Regions from separate parts of the Homo sapiens genome. Here region 1 is linked to region 2. Evidence: fine-mapped expression QTL. A gene starts in region 2. The other region holds a variant in brackets. All regions are shown on one strand. Distances are from middle to middle. Region 1 overlaps LOC105373167 (a long non-coding RNA gene). Region 2 holds the start of TTC13 (tetratricopeptide repeat domain 13).

The links. PIP is the estimated chance that this variant, and not a neighbour inherited with it, causes the effect.
Region 1: its variant is fine-mapped to the expression of TTC13 in whole blood (INTERVAL, PIP above 0.99). The same link has a PIP of 0.9 or more in lung.

What each region holds. Positions count from the first base shown.
Region 1 is chr1:230,897,156-230,905,491 of GRCh38, forward strand. LOC105373167 (a long non-coding RNA gene) reads left to right here. Exons shown (of 4, transcript XR_949264.3): 4 at 656-1,066. Among named protein-coding and RNA genes, the nearest start is that of C1orf198, 33 kb to the left of the region's middle. RefSeq lists an enhancer at 5,018-5,519. The variant AT/A (reference allele first, on the strand shown) is at 4,264.
Region 2 is chr1:230,974,841-230,983,176 of GRCh38, forward strand. It overlaps TTC13 (tetratricopeptide repeat domain 13), which reads right to left and starts at 4,021. Exons shown (of 23, transcript NM_024525.5): 1 at 3,720-4,021. The coding sequence starts at 3,990. ARV1 (ARV1 fatty acid homeostasis modulator) reads left to right here and starts at 4,254. Exons shown (of 6, transcript NM_022786.3): 1 at 4,254-4,439. The coding sequence starts at 4,266. RefSeq lists silencers at 3,336-3,625, 3,646-3,905 and an enhancer at 4,186-4,485.

The DNA of each region.
Region 1 (8,336 bases), 78 kb before region 2:
GTCTGGTATGGGGAAAGCAAGAGCCAGAAACTGTATTATTCCACTGGCCAGTTTTTATGTGTTTGTTTGTTGGCTTTGAGACATGATCTTGCTCTGTCGCACAGGTTGGAGTGCAGTGGCATGACCACAACTCATGGCAACCTCGAACTCCTGAGCTCAAGTGATCCTCCCACCTCAGCCTCCCAAGTAGCCAGGACTACAGGCGTGCACCACCATGCCTGGCTAATTTTTTAATTTTTTGTAGCAACAGGGTCTTGCTGTACTGCCCAGGCTGCTCTTGAACTCCTGGGCCCAAACAATCTTCCCACCTCGGCCTCCCAAATTGCTGGGATTACAGGGATGAGCCACTGCACCTGTACTGGCCAGCGTTCCTTGGCTGGTTTCTCTAATTATCCCTACATCTCCCACACTGGATTCAAAATGCAGAGATCCTTTGACAAGTCTTTATCAGTATAAAAGCCTCTGTGGTTATATCAAAAGCATGAAAAAGGAAAAACTATTTTAAATGAACTGTGGTTTTTCTGAATCTTCTCAAATTGGCTAATCAGTTAGAGAAAACTTAAGAATTTGTAATTGGCCCACTATACAACATATCAAAACTGTAAAGCTGGATAAAACACTGTAGATGACTTAGTTTCACGCTTTCCTTTTCCAGGTAAAGTAAGGCCAGAGAGATTAAATCCTTTGCTTGGGGGTAGGCAGCAGTGTTGGTTTTGGAGCCCACGTGTCCTGACTGAATACTCTACAGCTGGTCATTACTCCAGCTCCTTCTAGAGCATCAGGGAGTCCTGACTCTGGAATCCTGCAGTTCCCTCTGCCAGGGACTTGAGGATGTTCTGGTGTTCACATATAGCACAAGCACTTCCCCCTCTTTTCTTCTGATACCTGCATGCACACCTGAGACGCCTACTCCAAGACTCACCCTGGGGATGAAGTGGCCTGATTTCATTGTCATAAAGGCATCTCTGATGGGATTCTCCCAAGTCAGTAATCATCTGTGGGCTTTATGAATAACAAACATCTTAGCCTTGGATTATGTAGCTAATAAAAATAAGAGGTATATTCTAATATGCCAAAGTCAGCAATTGGGAAGTTCACGTCACCCGGTCCAATGTTGCATCCTCTCTGCGGTCTTTCCCAGTCTCCCCAGGCAGAGCCACTCCCTGCTCTTCTGTTCCTACCCAGATTTCTTAGGCTGTATCATGACCTAATTTGTACAATTTCCCCTGTTAGGACTGTGAGTTCCTTCTGGAAAGGGTTACTGTCTTACTCAACTATATCTCCAACATCTAGGACACAGCTTGGCCTCTAGTAGTTGCTGGGTCCAAATGATGGCTGGGACTGGGAGGAAGGCGCCATGTAGACCAAACAGGGATATAAGTGAACTTTCACACTCACCAACTTTCACTTACAGTCAGGGGCATCATAAGAATGATTATCCAAACCAGGATACTTTTGAATGGAAAGTGGCACTATTAATAATTACAATGGGACAGCAGGCATAAATCAGGCAAATTGGGGTATAGGACTGTCTTCCTTGTAACCTAGGTTTGGAAAGTTTTAGCTCTGGAAATTATGTACAATAAGAAAAGAAACATTAAGTGAATGCATGACTTGAAACCACTAAAAGAGAGGTCTGTTCAAATAAAGGAATTACATTCTGTCAAAGTATAATATACAGTGAAGGGATGGTTAGTCTAGAAATCACCATCCCTTTTATGATTTAACCAAGGGTATCGTATGCGTCTACCCTATGGCACTCTGGATTGGTCCAAGTGGTCACCTGACCTAACCTGGCCCAATCACGAGTCCTTTCCCTGGGATTCTGGGACTACAGCTGCGAAGGATGGGCTGTCTTTGGGTCGCCGATGCAAAGCTGAACACTGGTAGTAGCCCTGCACCCACCACGTTGGGAGAACAGGTTTGCAGATGGAGAGAGGAGCAGAAAGGAGAGATAGAGCCCGCTTCCAGCACAGCTGAAACATTTTGAGGGTCCAGGGCCAGAATATAAACGGACCCACCTATCACGTATCTAAAGACTTGGAAGTTATAAATCCATTGTCAAATAAAACATATCCTGTCTTCCTACCTTAATAAATGTATCTTCATGAGAAAAAAAAAATGGATATGGAACATGTGTAAAGCTACAGGTTTAACATATTCAAAAGTTTGCAAAATGCCTAAGACCAGTGCATTTAATCATTATTACACATTTGGTGTTCTCAATAGGCTCTGACATCAGCCAGAGTAATAAAGATATGCATGATTCAAAAATCACATTAATTCCTTAAAATGTATCATTCTTGCCTTCATTTCAGCAAAATCACTAATGTGGTTATATTCAAGATTTTTACTGAATTTGTGCTCTATCATGAGTTATGGATTAAAAAGAATTTTTAAAAAGATGTAATTGTAGTAAAAATATACCAAATCTGAATATATTTTTTAAAAATTTAAATAAATGTAAACATTTTTAAACTTGATTTTTAAAAAAATTTTTACTTTTAAAGTGTTCAATATGATCTATTAAAATTAAAGGCAGTGTGTGGATTATAATTTACAAATATTAAATTAAAACTCAAACCTTTAAAGCTAAATTTTATTTTAAAAATATAATTGCAATTTTAAATATAAAAATTATTTGCAATTCTAGCATTCGATGTCCATCTGGTTACCAGTGTAAAGAACTGGCATCATGCTTTACCTGTTGTGGCTAGACCTGCATATCTTAAGTTACCACGTGCAACTGTCACATAGGCCATGCTAATTCATGCGAACCTCCTGAATTGAAACAAAGCAAAGAAAAAAACAATCTAGACTACTGGAAAAAGGCACGTCACTATGTAAGAATCCAGTGCATTTATACTATCCGAAGGGAAGAATTTGACAAAATAGTTTTTTCCCCTCTTATCTAAGGCATTTCGATTGCTCAAGTAATTTTTGGAAGGAATGTGCCAGCATGTAATTTCAGTATTATTGGTCTCCCAAGGATGTGGAGCACAAAACCAGGCTGCTCAGTGGTCAAGCTAGCATCTCACTCAGAGGGCCAGAGCTGTGCTCCTACCCACACACATTACCAAAATCAGAGTATTGGTTAACGCTGCCCTGAAGGGAGAGCAAGAAGAAACCTAACAGATACAGAAAGGGAAAGAAGAAGGGTCAAGTTGCATAGGAACAGAAGAATGAAGATTATTTTAATGAAAATGTTCTTGTAATAAAAGGATTACAAAGTCAAGATTTTACTTCTAAGGCTCTTAAAATACAAGTGTTCATAGATGATAATTTTTAAAATCACAAACAGAAATATAATATTAATTGTTATAATGATAGGAGTGTTTCTGGAAAAAAATTGGAGGTGTAAAGGCTGGAGTAAGCCTGAGATAAGGTGATTTTTCTTATTGGATTAATCTTAACAGAAATCACTTATAGGCTGACACAAAATAAATGGGGTGATAATATAATGGATGAAAATCAGATTTTATAATACAAAAGAAAACAGCTATAAGAATGGACCAATATTAATTAAATGACACTTGGTGGAGGCAAAAAGATTAAATGGTAAAGCTTTATTAAACAGACACAGCTGCTAGGGAAGACGGAAGTTAGAGATTTTTAGTTGACTTGGGTCAATAGTGTGATGAAGCTGCCTTCGAGAGCTACTGTAGTCTGCTGTGTTTATATGAAATCTGTGATGTATATTTATTTATATGTATAAACATGTGTTCACATACATTCTGGGGTGCTGGTAATGTTCTGTTTCTTGATCTCAAAGCTGGTTATGTTAGGTTTGTGAAGATTCACCAATGTGCACACACATGTGCATTTTTTGTATGTATGTTGTACTTCAATTAAAATATTTTATGGGACAGACCACATGTGGACTATTATGTTTAGTTATGAACATTTATTTCATTTTAAGGAGTATGAAGAGGCGGTGGGAGGAGCCACAGAAGGAGCTATTTAGGCTGAACAAGCGAAGGCCCGGCAGGGGAGCTGTCTGAAGTTTTTTTGTGCATTCCGCTCAATGATGGTGTTTACCTAGGTTGACCGCCAGCTCCGTGGCACTACCTGAGTGACCTCTGGGCAGCTACTCACCTCTTTTTGTCCCAGCTTCCTCAACAGCAAATTACAGGAGCTTGACTAGATGATCTGAGAACTCCTTAGCTCTCAAGTGCTATGAGCATTAAAAGGCATGTGTATAAAACAAGTATACATGTATCAGAGTTAGTTGGTTCTCCCACTCATGTTTTTCTTACATGTTGT[AT/A]TTTTTTTTTTATCCAGCTGTGAAACTGGATGGTTAACATTTATGTACTTACCTGAAACAGAAAGTGCTACATTCACTTTAGAAGTTACTTCTATACCAAACTGGTAATTCAAGGAGTTAATTTGCATGTAAAAATTGTTCTAGTACTTTGCATTAGAAGCCTACTAATGGAAAGATTCATTGATTCAGAATCTATTTTTGGACAGAGATGTATTATTTTAAATTCTGATCCTAGTAAGTGACAATTTCCAGTTTTTGTTGGGCTTATACATAAGCCTTGACAAATCTGATCATTTTGACATGATCTCTAGAGTTGTGTTACACAACAAGCCAATCCGCCTGGCCCCCGATGGATGACTGCTGGAAGCCCCTTGAGTAATATGGTGGCATTTCTACCTGGTAGACAGCCAAAAGCAATCAAGCTCCTTGACAGAAGGGCTTATTTGTTTAAGGCTAAGAATGCGGCAGTCAAATCCCCGCTGGCCCCACCACCACTCTCCACTGAGGACTTACTACGCATGGCAAACACACTAGGCAACATTCAAGAGCTATGACAGGCAAGTCACTTCTCCCACCTGAGCCCGTTTGTCACCTAAGTGGGGATAATACTAGCACTTATCTCACAGGCCTCTTCAAAGGATTAAATGAGTGAAACAATGTACAACACTTAGAAAAAATTGGCCAGGCGCCGTGGCTCACGCCTGTAATCCCAGCACTTTGGGAGGCCGAGGTGGGCGGATCACGAGGTCAGGAGATCGAGACCATCCTGGCCAACATGGTGAAACCCCCCCCTCTCTACTAAAAATACAAAAATTAGCTGGGCGTGGTGGCGTGCGCCTGAAGTCCCAGAAACTAGGGAGGCTGAGGCAGGAGAATCGCTTGAACCCGGGAGGCGGAGGTTGCAGTGAGCCGAGATTGCGCCATCGCACTCCAGTCTGGGCAATAAAGAGAGACTCTGTCTCGGGATTAAAAAAAAAAAAAAAAAAAAAAAAAGGAAAGAAAAATGCCAGCCGTAGTAAGTGCTTAAAACACATTAGCTCCCGAAGGGCCCCAAACCCTGGAGACAGAAGCATCCGGTTGCAACCCCTCATCCCTCGAGAGGTGGCAGCAAGCCTTATAGGGAAGCCCAAGCCCAAGCCCAGTGTGGCATAGAATAGAGCAGGGGGCCCGCAGGGAGCCTCCACAATGGCAGGAGTTCTGCACGCTCAGTACCGGTAGCCCAGGGCTCTGGAGGTAGAGAAGTCTGCGGACCAGCCGGAGGAGGCCGAAGAGGCAGCGCATGCGCTGTTGGCCAGCGGACCCGAGCGGGCAGAGGTCAATCAACAGTAGACGCTGTACCCACTGAGGCTTGCTGCCCTAGCACAGGGAGCATGAGCTAAACCTCAGTGCGGAGGATCTGGGCAAAGGCCCGAGGGTGGCCAAGACGCCTGGCTCAGGAAATCAGACTGTCCCCCGAAGGGCGAAGGCAAGGAGGCTGGGAACTTAAACAAGGCAATTCAAAACTGCACGTCTGTGTCACCTTGAATGGGCACAAGTTAAACTCTTTATTGGAGCTTGTGAACCAAGTTGTGTTCAACTAAGCTGCCTGTGTTCAAGACTTAATTACATATATATGTGTATATCCAACTTAAAATGTTACAAATATATTTATTGACATATAATTCATTATGTGTTAATTGAAAAAAGTAAATTTTAAAAATTAAGCACAGTGTAGTGTGATCTCATTTTGTATATCCAACTTTCTGTAGACTAGTTTAACTGGTAAAATTTATGTTTACAACATATAAAACTAAAGGGATTCTATATTTATGGGAACATAGTTTGAAGCAAAAAGGGCTACTGTAAATCTAATCACAGCTCTAATATTCAAGAACATACTTGTTTTCATGATATTCTAGTTTGATGTTTCTCAGGTGTGGTTCCCAGACCACTTCTGTGTGAAGCACGTGAGGTTTAGGTGAAGATGGAGATCCCGGGCCTAACCACAGACACCTTGGATCAGAAAACAGAAGGAAACGTTTCAAGCCAGTCTAGAAGTGTTTTTTCTTTCTTTCTCTAATTTGTGCCCCCATGCTGCCACCAAACACTGTGGTTTTGACCCTAAAACCTCCTGGACCCTTGCTTAAGACCACCGGGATGCGCAGTGTGTTGGGTTGGGGGGATAGCAGTGTGTTTGCTTTCAGGATAGCAGTGCTGCTCAGTGGGATGTTCTGTGATGATGGGGCTGTCCCATGTCTGCTCTGTCCAATGTGATAGCTGCTAGCCACATGTGGCTACTGAGCACTTGAAAGGCAGCTAGGGAGACAGAAACAAGCGTTCGATTTAGTTTAATATTGATTAGTTTAGCTTTAAGTAGCTTGGGCTTGGGGGTAACAATGGAGATGGTAAGACATGAATGGATCTGGGATCTTCTTAGAGGTAAACAGGATCGGACTGGATGGTGATCATTTGAAAACTGCAGGAGGGCAGTGTAGACTCTGGAGGCTGCCTGGGTGTCTGGCTGAAGCTGCTGAGTGAAAAGGGAACCATTTCTGACACAGAGAAGCGTGGGGAGAAACAGACTTTGGGTGAAGGAATGATGGGCTCCATTACAGACATCTTAAGATGTATTCATGAACACTCAGATTTTGCTGGTCTGGGACACAGTGGGTTTCTTTAGGTGATTTTGCTGGTCTCTCTTTCTGAGGCATATCAATTTTATTCCATATTTCCAAATTATCAGAGAGTAATGATCACAGAGTTGGAGGTCAGTTTCCTGTCCCTCATACAGTTTCTATACCAAAGAAATTCCACACTAAAGTTCTTAATGTACTAGCAAATTTTGCTCTAGATTTTTTAAAGTTAGTTTTTTTTTTTTTTTTTTTTGAGGCGGAGTCTCGCTCTGTCGCCCAGGCTGGAGTGCAGTGGCGGGATCTCGGCTCACTGCAAGCTCCGCCTCCCGGGTTCACGCCATTCTCCTGCCTCAGCCTCCCAAGTAGCTGGGACTACAGGCACCCGCCACTACGCCCGGCTAATTTTTTTGTATTTTTAGTACAGACGGGGTTTCACCGTTTTAGCCGGGATGGTCTCGATCTCCTTACCTCGTGATCCGCCCGCCTCGGCCTCCCAAAGTGCTGGGATTACAGGCGTGAGCCACCGCGCCCGGCCTTTAAAGTTAGTTTTTTAAAAGTCTGAACATCTTGATCCACAGGAGCAATTTTATCGATAGAACTGTGATACCGAGGTAATAAGAAAGCTATATCTGATCTCTGCCCTCCAGTTCCTGGCACAGAGCTCGTAAAACTCTTGGTATTTTCTGAGTGATCGGGATGAGAAGTGTTTTTTGTTATTAATAAGCACCTTCCAACCATATCTGAATTTATGCTGATGAGATGACTCTTGGAGGATGGGGGTTGGGGGCCAGAGAAACTAACCATGTGATTAGAGGAACTTTCAGTCCTAACCCCCAGCCTCCAGAGAGAAAAGAGGGGCTGAGAATTGACCTAATTGGCAATGATTTAATCAACCATGCCTATGCAATGGAACCCCCATAAAAACCCTAAGTGAAAAGGTTTGGGGGTTTTTGGTTGGTGAACACTTCCAGGTGGGGGGACGGTGGTGGGCCTGGAGAGCGCACGGAAGCTCCATGCTGCCCCCCCATACCTTGCCCTGTGCACCTCTTCCATTTGGCTGTTCATGTGTATCCGATATAACAAATCAGTAATAGTAAGTAAAGGGTGTCCCTGAATTGTGTGAGCCATTCTTGCAAATTATCAAACATGAGGAGGGAGGGTGTGATGGGAACCCCCGAGTTATAGCCAATCAGTCAGAAGTACAGGAGGCCCTGACTTGCAACTGGCATCTGAAAAGGGGGCAGTCTTGTGAGACTGAGCCCTTAACCTCTGGGGTCTGTGTTAACTCCAGGAAGTTAGTGTCAGATGTGAATTGCAGGATCCCTCCCCACTCCAGCTGATATATGGAAAGCTGCATAATTGGTTGCTATGCGGGGAAAACTCCATATATCTGGTATGGGAACTCTTGCGAATAAAAACAGATCATAGTAAGAGCTTAGCTACTCAGGCAAGTCTATAAC
Region 2 (8,336 bases):
GGTTCAGTGAAGCATCCTTGAATTTGTAGTCAAAGACAAAATTCTAATAGTGATTTAAGAATATAACTTTCAACAAAGCTTGAAGTTATAGGACTTCATCATTAATATTAGTAAGAAATTATACTAATATGCAACAATTACTGAAGATAACACACAAATGGTCAGGTCAGGTTCAAATCCTGGCTCTACTCTTTACTGTATAACCTTAACTTCTCTGTCTCAGTTTGTAAAATGGGGATTAAAAACAGCATTGGCCAGGCACGGTGTCTCACGTCTGTAATCCCAACACTTTGGGAGGCTGAGGTGGAAGTACTGCTTGAGTCCAGGAGTTTGACCAGCCTGGGCAACATAGCCAGACCTTGTCTCTACAGAAAAAAAAAAAAAATAGCTGGGCATGGTGGCACACGTCTGTGGTCCTAGCTACTTGGGAAGCTGAGGCAGGACGATGGCTTCAAACCAGGAATTTAAGGCTGCAGTGAGCTATGACAGCACCAATGAACTACCTCCTGGGCAACAGAGCAAGACCCTGTCTCTAAAAAAATAGAAAAAACAACAGCACCTACTTCAGTATCAAAAGGATTAAAAAAGATTGCAGAGTGTTTATGACAATATAACTAAAAAAGTGAGGAAAGAATTGGAAAAATACTTCTGTTCATCATTTCCTCCGACAGTTACAAATTAAAGATAGGGCTTTGGCAACAGGAAATTTACTTTTATTTTTAAAATATGTACAATACAGTGTTCATTTTTTTAAAATAATATTTTTTCTCTACAAGTAAACAAAGAGAGAAGACAAGTTTGTGGTTATATGCTTTTCAAGTAAAAAGGTAAAAATAAATAAAATATCAAAAAGGTAAAATGTAAAAATGTGGAGTAGAAAATATTAAGGGCGGATCAGGAAACATGCAAAGCTCAAGCTGAGACATATGGCACCAGAGGGACATCCATGCCTGTCACTTCTGCAGTAGATCTGGGTGGGGCTCAGCCCACTGAGCATTAGGCTGTTCCCTGGGACATGGATGCCATGTGACGGTGGTGTGCATAGCTGGGCCAGCCATTGCTAGTGTGTTGTCTTTGGATTGGTGGGCTCCCACCAGCCACTGTCCTTGTATGTACAATCACTGGCGGTTCTGTCTCAAGGGAATACATATACTGCTTGTAAGAAGGTATGCAGATTTAAATTTAGACCCAAGCAGGCATCAGCTCAGCCATTTGAACCTGAAAGCTGTGGGAAAGATTCTGAAAAGTGGTTGTGCTGCTGTGTTTGTCCTCAGTATATGTGCTGGATTGATATGAACAGGTTTGTGGCTGGACAGGCAAGCAAGAGACGATGGCATGATCAATGCTTAGTAAAGCCAAGTCTGTATGATTCTGAAGAACTGACTAGTTCTGGATCCTGACATTTGTCTAGACCCTAATGTTGCTCAAATGGGTCTCCGGATACAGAGCATCAGCTGCCCCTCAGGCTATGGCACGGTTAGTTGTAAATCCCGAATTCATCCCCACATCCTAGGACAGAGAAGAAATGAAACAGGTTTCATAGGGTCCAGCTTCTACATAGTTGTCCAGGGCGAAGAGGGAGAAATGAGAAGTATTTCAGTAGCCCCTACAACAACAGAGTTGGCTTTTGTCGCATACTGCAGCCAGGAAAGCTGAGGGAAACAGCTGGAGCTCCAAGTAGTTGATTCTGGAAATGACTTCTTGGGTGACCACAGCGGCAGCTGCCCCACTTTAGCACCTGTTGGTAGCTACTCACACAGCCAGGGGAGGTGATCTGAAAGACTCAGGTCGTTCATTTGCAACAGTAAATTTTAAATTCCAAGCTAGAAAAAATAAGTACTACATGGGAGAGAGAAAAAGAAGGTAGAAACATCTAAATAAATTATGTTTACAGCTTCATGATACAGTGTTCATCCTCCAGGGAAATATCGTAATACAAGTCAGAGCTGGCTTGAACAGGGTTCTTAAATACTGGTGGTTAGCCTGATGCCAAAGAATCAAATAAGCCACCAACATCAATGATACCAATAGATATCATAGTATTAATCGATACATACCTTCTACTGTCTAAACGCTGGGGCTCCTTTAGCCAGTGAGCACCACATGAGCAAAGGAGAAAGGGAAATTTACCCAACATGCACCATATGCAAGTAAATACTTCAGATGTGGTTTGCCTACCTACAACCACTTAATGGTTAGGACAAAGGCTTTGTCTGGAGCCCGACTTCATGGGTTCCTCCTTTGGCAGCTGTGGGATCTCAAGAAGATGACAATTTCACTATGTTTCAGTTTGTTCATCTGAGAAAATGAGCCACCATCTAATGAGGTGGTTATTGTTTTTCTGATAGACTAATATACTAGGCTCATAGACCTAAAGCACTTATAACAGCACCTGGCATACAGCAAGCACTCAATATATGTCGGCTACTTCTCATTTCCCTCACAGCACCCTCGTGAGGAAAATAAAACCCCACAATTAGGTGAACAGTGTTTTCCACTTACAGAGGAGGCATTTTACAAAGACAGGTAATTCACTTGCTCAGAGATACAGAAAGTGACAGAGGTAAGTAAATGCCATTCTTTCTCCACCGTGCAAGGCTGGCCGTGTTACTTACGCCGTTACCAGCTAAGGCCTACCGCAAAATAAAAAAGTCACAAACCTCTCAGTGAGTGACACTTCCTCAAGGAAGTCAGACTGTACTAAAAGGAAATCAGATTGTGCTAATCTTGACGTCTCATCTCAACTAAAAAAAAAAGGTATTGTTTTCCCAGGTACACAATGCCGAAGAAAACCACTGCCAAGTCTTAAAAGCAACCATCTCCCAGTGGGTTCGGTAGACCCCGGTCCTTCCCAAAGCAAGCCATAAGGGAACTCACATAGAGAAGGGGGAAAGAGAAAGGGAGGAGATTGATGGGTAAAAAGACCCACGACAGAACTTCAAAACAAAAAAATGTACACACGTATTTTGTCCCAGAGGCATCTGCTATGATTTATTAAACTGAAGCCAATAGCGCCCATTCTTAATGAATGAGCTGGCGTAGCTCCAATACACACACGGCACTGACACACAGGCTCAAGGCCTGCAGGGGCCTTTTTTCCCTCTGGGAGACACCTGACAGATCGCAGGTTGATCTTAAACAACTGGAAGCAAGATGTCAACGAGCAGATAAGATGGGCTTGCTCTTTTTTTCCATTCCAGGGATCCAATTTTTAGGAACTGTTGTATACGAGACATTAACCCGGGAGGTCAGGAAGCCTGATTTCCAGGCCTAAGATGTGCCAGGCGTCTCCCTCCGGGGGCGGGCTCCGCAAGCCGCCGGGCTGGTTGCTCGTCCGCCCGCCCCTCCCTCGCCCCTTCGGCATCCTCGGGAGGCCGGCGGCGGGAACAGGGCTGCCCCGGGCCACCTGCCATCTCCTCCGCCACCCTTCCAACAGTTGCTTCAGACTCAGGAGAGAGGCCGCCCTGGCCCCAGGAGCATGCTGTCAGCTCATTTCTCGACTCGCCGCCCTGCCCAAAGGCGGCTGCAGGAGGGCGCGCGGCGGCGTGGGTGGCAGCGGCGGGAAGCTGCCCGCCAGGACCCCTGGCCGAGCCGGCTCCCGCGGATCGCGCGCCGCAGCCGGAGGCGTGAGGCCCGGGCGACCCGTACCCCGGCCCGGGACCCCAGCCCCGCTGCCCCGCCGCCCCGGCCGACTCGGACGCCCGCCGCCGCCCACTCACCGCCGCACTCGGCAGAGTACTGGTCCCCCCAGTCCCCGGACTGCGGGCTGCAGCCGCCGCCGCCCGCCGGGGCCTCCTGCTGCTGCCGGTGCTGCAGCTCCTGCTTGAGCAGGGAGAGCGGCGAGTAGTGCTCGGTGGCCAGGGCGCCTGGCCGCAGCCCGGCGGACAGGACCCCCAGCAGCAGCAGCAGCAGGACACGCCGGGCGGCGCCCGCGGCGGCCACAGCGCCGCCCCAGAAGCAGCAGCAGCAGCAGCAGCCGGCAGGTGCCATCTTCCCTCAAGGCGCATGCGCGACAGCCCTTGCCCGGCTCTCAGGCCTCCCCGCCTCTAACCTACGGCGGGCAGGTGGACCGTGGCAAGGGGGCGGGACAAGGGGAGAAGCATTGTGTGCTGGGAATGGTAGTCCCAGCTCGGCCAGCCCGGGGCCGCCTTGCCGGTGCCGGGACTACGAATCCCAATAAGCCCGCGCGGCGCAAGTCTTCCGGTCTGGCGTCTGACGTCTTACCCTCCACAGAATCGGAAGTTCTGGACTGCAGTTGAGTGGAAATGGGCAACGGCGGGCGGAGCGGCCTGCAGCAGGGGAAGGGGAACGTGGATGGGGTGGCAGCGACTCCTACTGCTGCCTCGGCCTCCTGCCAGTACAGGTGCATCGAATGCAACCAGGAGGCCAAAGAGTTGTACCGAGACTATAACCACGGTGTGCTGAAGATAACCATCTGTGTGAGTTGTCAGGTGTGGGGTGCCCTTGAGAAGAAAATGGCGCGGCGGGATTTGGGGACCGCGAGGAGCAGGGTCCTCTGATACAGTCTTTAGTTCGGTAGTTGACATTCCCGCCCGGGATCTTTGCATGAATATCTGTACTGATAGAGAACTCAGCTACCCGACAGCGCTTTTCTCATACTGGGGCATATTTGGGTGATATGACCTAAGCCGGCGAACGGACCGGACCGACAGACAGAGGTAGATGTGGGCATTTTGCAGAGAAATTTAAAGATCAATTAGGTTGACATTTTGGTTCATGCCAAAGCTACTTCCTTCTAGCTCTTCTCCCTTTGACAGAGAGATGGTACCATCCTTACCCTCCACAACCCATGTTGAATTCACCTACGATGCTTTTTAAAGGTTTCATCAATTGTCGTTATTGGATGTCTACGGTGTACAAAGCACTATGCTAGACGTTGGTGGTACAAAACCCAAAAGTGAGGAAGTAAAAATTCTCATTTCAAGGTGTTCGTAGAATACCTTGAACTTTCTGATGATTTTCCATCTCAGAGTTAAGGCCCGAATCCCTGAACTGGCTTATAAGGCCCTATGGAGTCTCCTGCTACTCTTTCCCTTCTTTATTTTACGGCAGAGAGAATAATCTTATGTTTAAAGAGTCTACAAAGTTGGAGGTTCTTTGGGGGTATTAATTAGCAAAGAACCTGTCACAGAATAGACAGTACATTTTTGTCCCATTTCAGATCTTGTGATTTTCTAATCTCTTTAGTAAATTATGGTCTGTAGTAATATACAAGAGAATTGACAAACTGAGTGTATACCTGTATAATCTGCCAACCACATAACGTTCTGATGCATACAACCTCAATTTCCTGTTCCTCTCTCAAGTACTTTCCCTCTTTTGTCAAAATGTCAACCCTTGTTAAATCCAACATATTGCCTGGTCTTGTCCCTGTACCCATGCAGCAGTACGTTGCTGGGGAAAAACAAATTTGTGACGATTAACCTCATATAGGCCTTTCATGATTTCTGGCAATCTTATTTCGGTTTTTTTTTTCTTTCTTTCTTTCTTTTTGAGATAGAGTTTCCCTCTGTCACCCAGGCTGGAGTGCAGTGGGGCACTCTCAGCTCACTAAAACCTCTGCCTCCCAAGTTCAAGCAATTCTCCTGCCTCAGCCTCCCAAGTAGCTGGGATTACAGGCCTGCACCACCACGCCGGGCTAATTTTTGTATTTTTAGTAGAGACCAGGTTTCACCATGTTGACCAGGCTGGTCTTGAACTGACCTCAAATGATCCACCCACCTCGGCCTCCCAAAGTGCTGGGGTTACAGGCATGAGCCACTGCGAAAACAGAAGAGAACTTCCACCAGGTTTGCAACAACATAAACCCAATACTAGCATTTGTTATTTCTTTACTGTACTGTCTTCTTCTGCCTTCTGCTGGATCATTCCCACCAGCATGCATACTGTTACTTCTTCCATCAAAAAAAAAAAAAAAACCAACACCACCAACAAAATACACTTGCTGCCACTTCCCCCTTTAGCTTCTGCTCTTTTTCTTCTTAATTAGAAAGCAGACCTTCTAAGATATGTTTGTACTGTCTATTTCCTTTCCTAGTTTCTCTTGAACCTGCTTTAGTCACATTCCCACCCGCATTTCATTAGAAACTGTTCTTGTTAAGATCACCACTTCCACTTTGCTAAATCCAGTAGTCGATTCTCAGTTAATGATCAGCAGCATTTTACCTCATTACTTCCTCCTCCTTGAAATGCTGTGTGCGCTTCCCAGGATTCAGTGCTCTTCTTATTGTCTTCTTACTTCACTGGCTGTTACCCCTCAATCTCCTTTCTGCTTTTGCTTCACCTCCCTTACCTCTTAATCATGGTGTATTCCAACGCATAGTCATCGTGCCTCTTTCTGTCTGCATGCTTTCCCTTGAAGAGCTCATTCTGTCTCATGGCTTTAAATACCGTCAAAATTTTGACAATTTCCAAATTTATATTTCTACCCTGAACCTCTTCCCTGAACTCCAGACTTAAATGTCCAACTACCTACTTGACTTCTCCACTTGGATTTCAATAGACAGCTCAAATATACCCATCACAGTTAATGGCAACTTTACCATTTTAACTCCTAAGACCAAGAAACCTTGGTGTCATCCCTATTTCTACTCTTCCTCTCACATCCCATATTCAGGTATTCAGCAAATCCTGTTCTGTCTTCAAATTATGTTCAGAATCCACTACTTCTCACTACTCCTGCTGCTACAATCCTCATCCAAGCCACCATGATGTCTACCTGAACTATTGTTGTAACTCCTATCTGGTCTCCCTACATCATCCTTGTACCTCTTCAGTCTTCTCTCCACACAGTAGCCAGGGACTGATCCTTTAAAAATGTAATTTAGATCATATCATCTCTTTGACCAAAACTTTCTGATGATTTTCCATCTCAGAGTTAAGGCCTGAATCCCTGAACTGGCTTATAAGGCCCTATGGAGTCTCCTGCTACTCTTTCCCTTCTTTATTTTACCGGCAGTCCCGCTGGCATCCTGGTGTTTCTCAGACCAGGCAGGTTCCTTCCTCAAGGCCTTTGCACAATGCCTGGAGCACTCTTCTATCAGGTATCTGCGTGACTAATTCCCTTACCTCCTTCAAACATCTCAGAGAGTCTACTCTGACTACCCTATTGAAAAGTATGATATGCTTCCCAGCTTTATCTTTCTCTATAGCACCTATCTTCTTGTAATCTTGTATATAATTGACTTAATGTTGTGTGTCTTCTCCTACTGGAAAGTAAGCTACACAAGGACAGACATTCTCTCTGTTTTATTCATTAATGTAGCTGTATCACCCAGAACAGCGACTGACATTTAGTAGCCACTCAGTAAATGTCTGTTGAATAAATGTATCACTTCCAGGTTTTTAGATTAGCATATGCTTGGCCATCCAGGTAGGAGGAAGAGAACAAGATCTTATATGTGGTCTAAACTTAATAACTTTTGGACTGGTCCAATTAAATGGTCAGTTTGGAAGATGATAACCACATAACTGAATATGGTCTGAAGAAAAGCTGGTATTTGTATATGCATTTTAGTTAGTAGTCTTCAATAATACAAAAAATCTCTTTTTGTTGGCATTAAGCTAACAAAATCCCTTTGCTAAACAGCAGGTGTTTATTTTGTTTATGGAAAGGCAAAATAATTATTGGATAGCTGTTTAGGTCAACATTCACTTACCCCCTCCCCTTTGTTCCCTAACATGATACTCTTTCTCCCAAGAGATGGACTTTGGAGTTATATTTGGAATATTGAATGGTGGCACAGTACTTTATGGATTCGTTATTGTCCACAGTCATTCCATAATGAGACAGAGTGTCTAATGGCCTTGTCGCTATCATGCTAATGCATACTAAACTTTAGGCCATAATAGCACGACTCAGGGAAAATCATTTTGTTGATGCCAGACTAAAAAATTAAACCATGAAGCAATGAATTATTTTAAAGGCCCTCCAACCTCTGAGATACAAAAAGTAAGAAGTTTTTAAACATTAGACCATGTGTTGTGACATAATCTCCAGAGTTTCTAAGTGGTTACTCATATATACTTTGGTCTCTTCCCTGCCGAACTTGGAGTCAGCAAGATCCTCAGCCTGATCGCCCACGTGTATTTTTCATCCCAATCTCCTTTCCTTTTGCTCTGCTTGTTTCTTCACTGCCATTCCTCCCAGCTTGCCTTTCTGTGTTTCTCTGACTTTCCTCTAATATATCATGTGTCCCTTGCTTTTAACCAATCCTGCTGCTTCAGCTCTTCACAATTTATTATAAGTACGCTTAAAGATACAGTACTTTCGGCCTAGCACGGTGGCTCATGCCTGTAATCCCAGTACTTTGGGA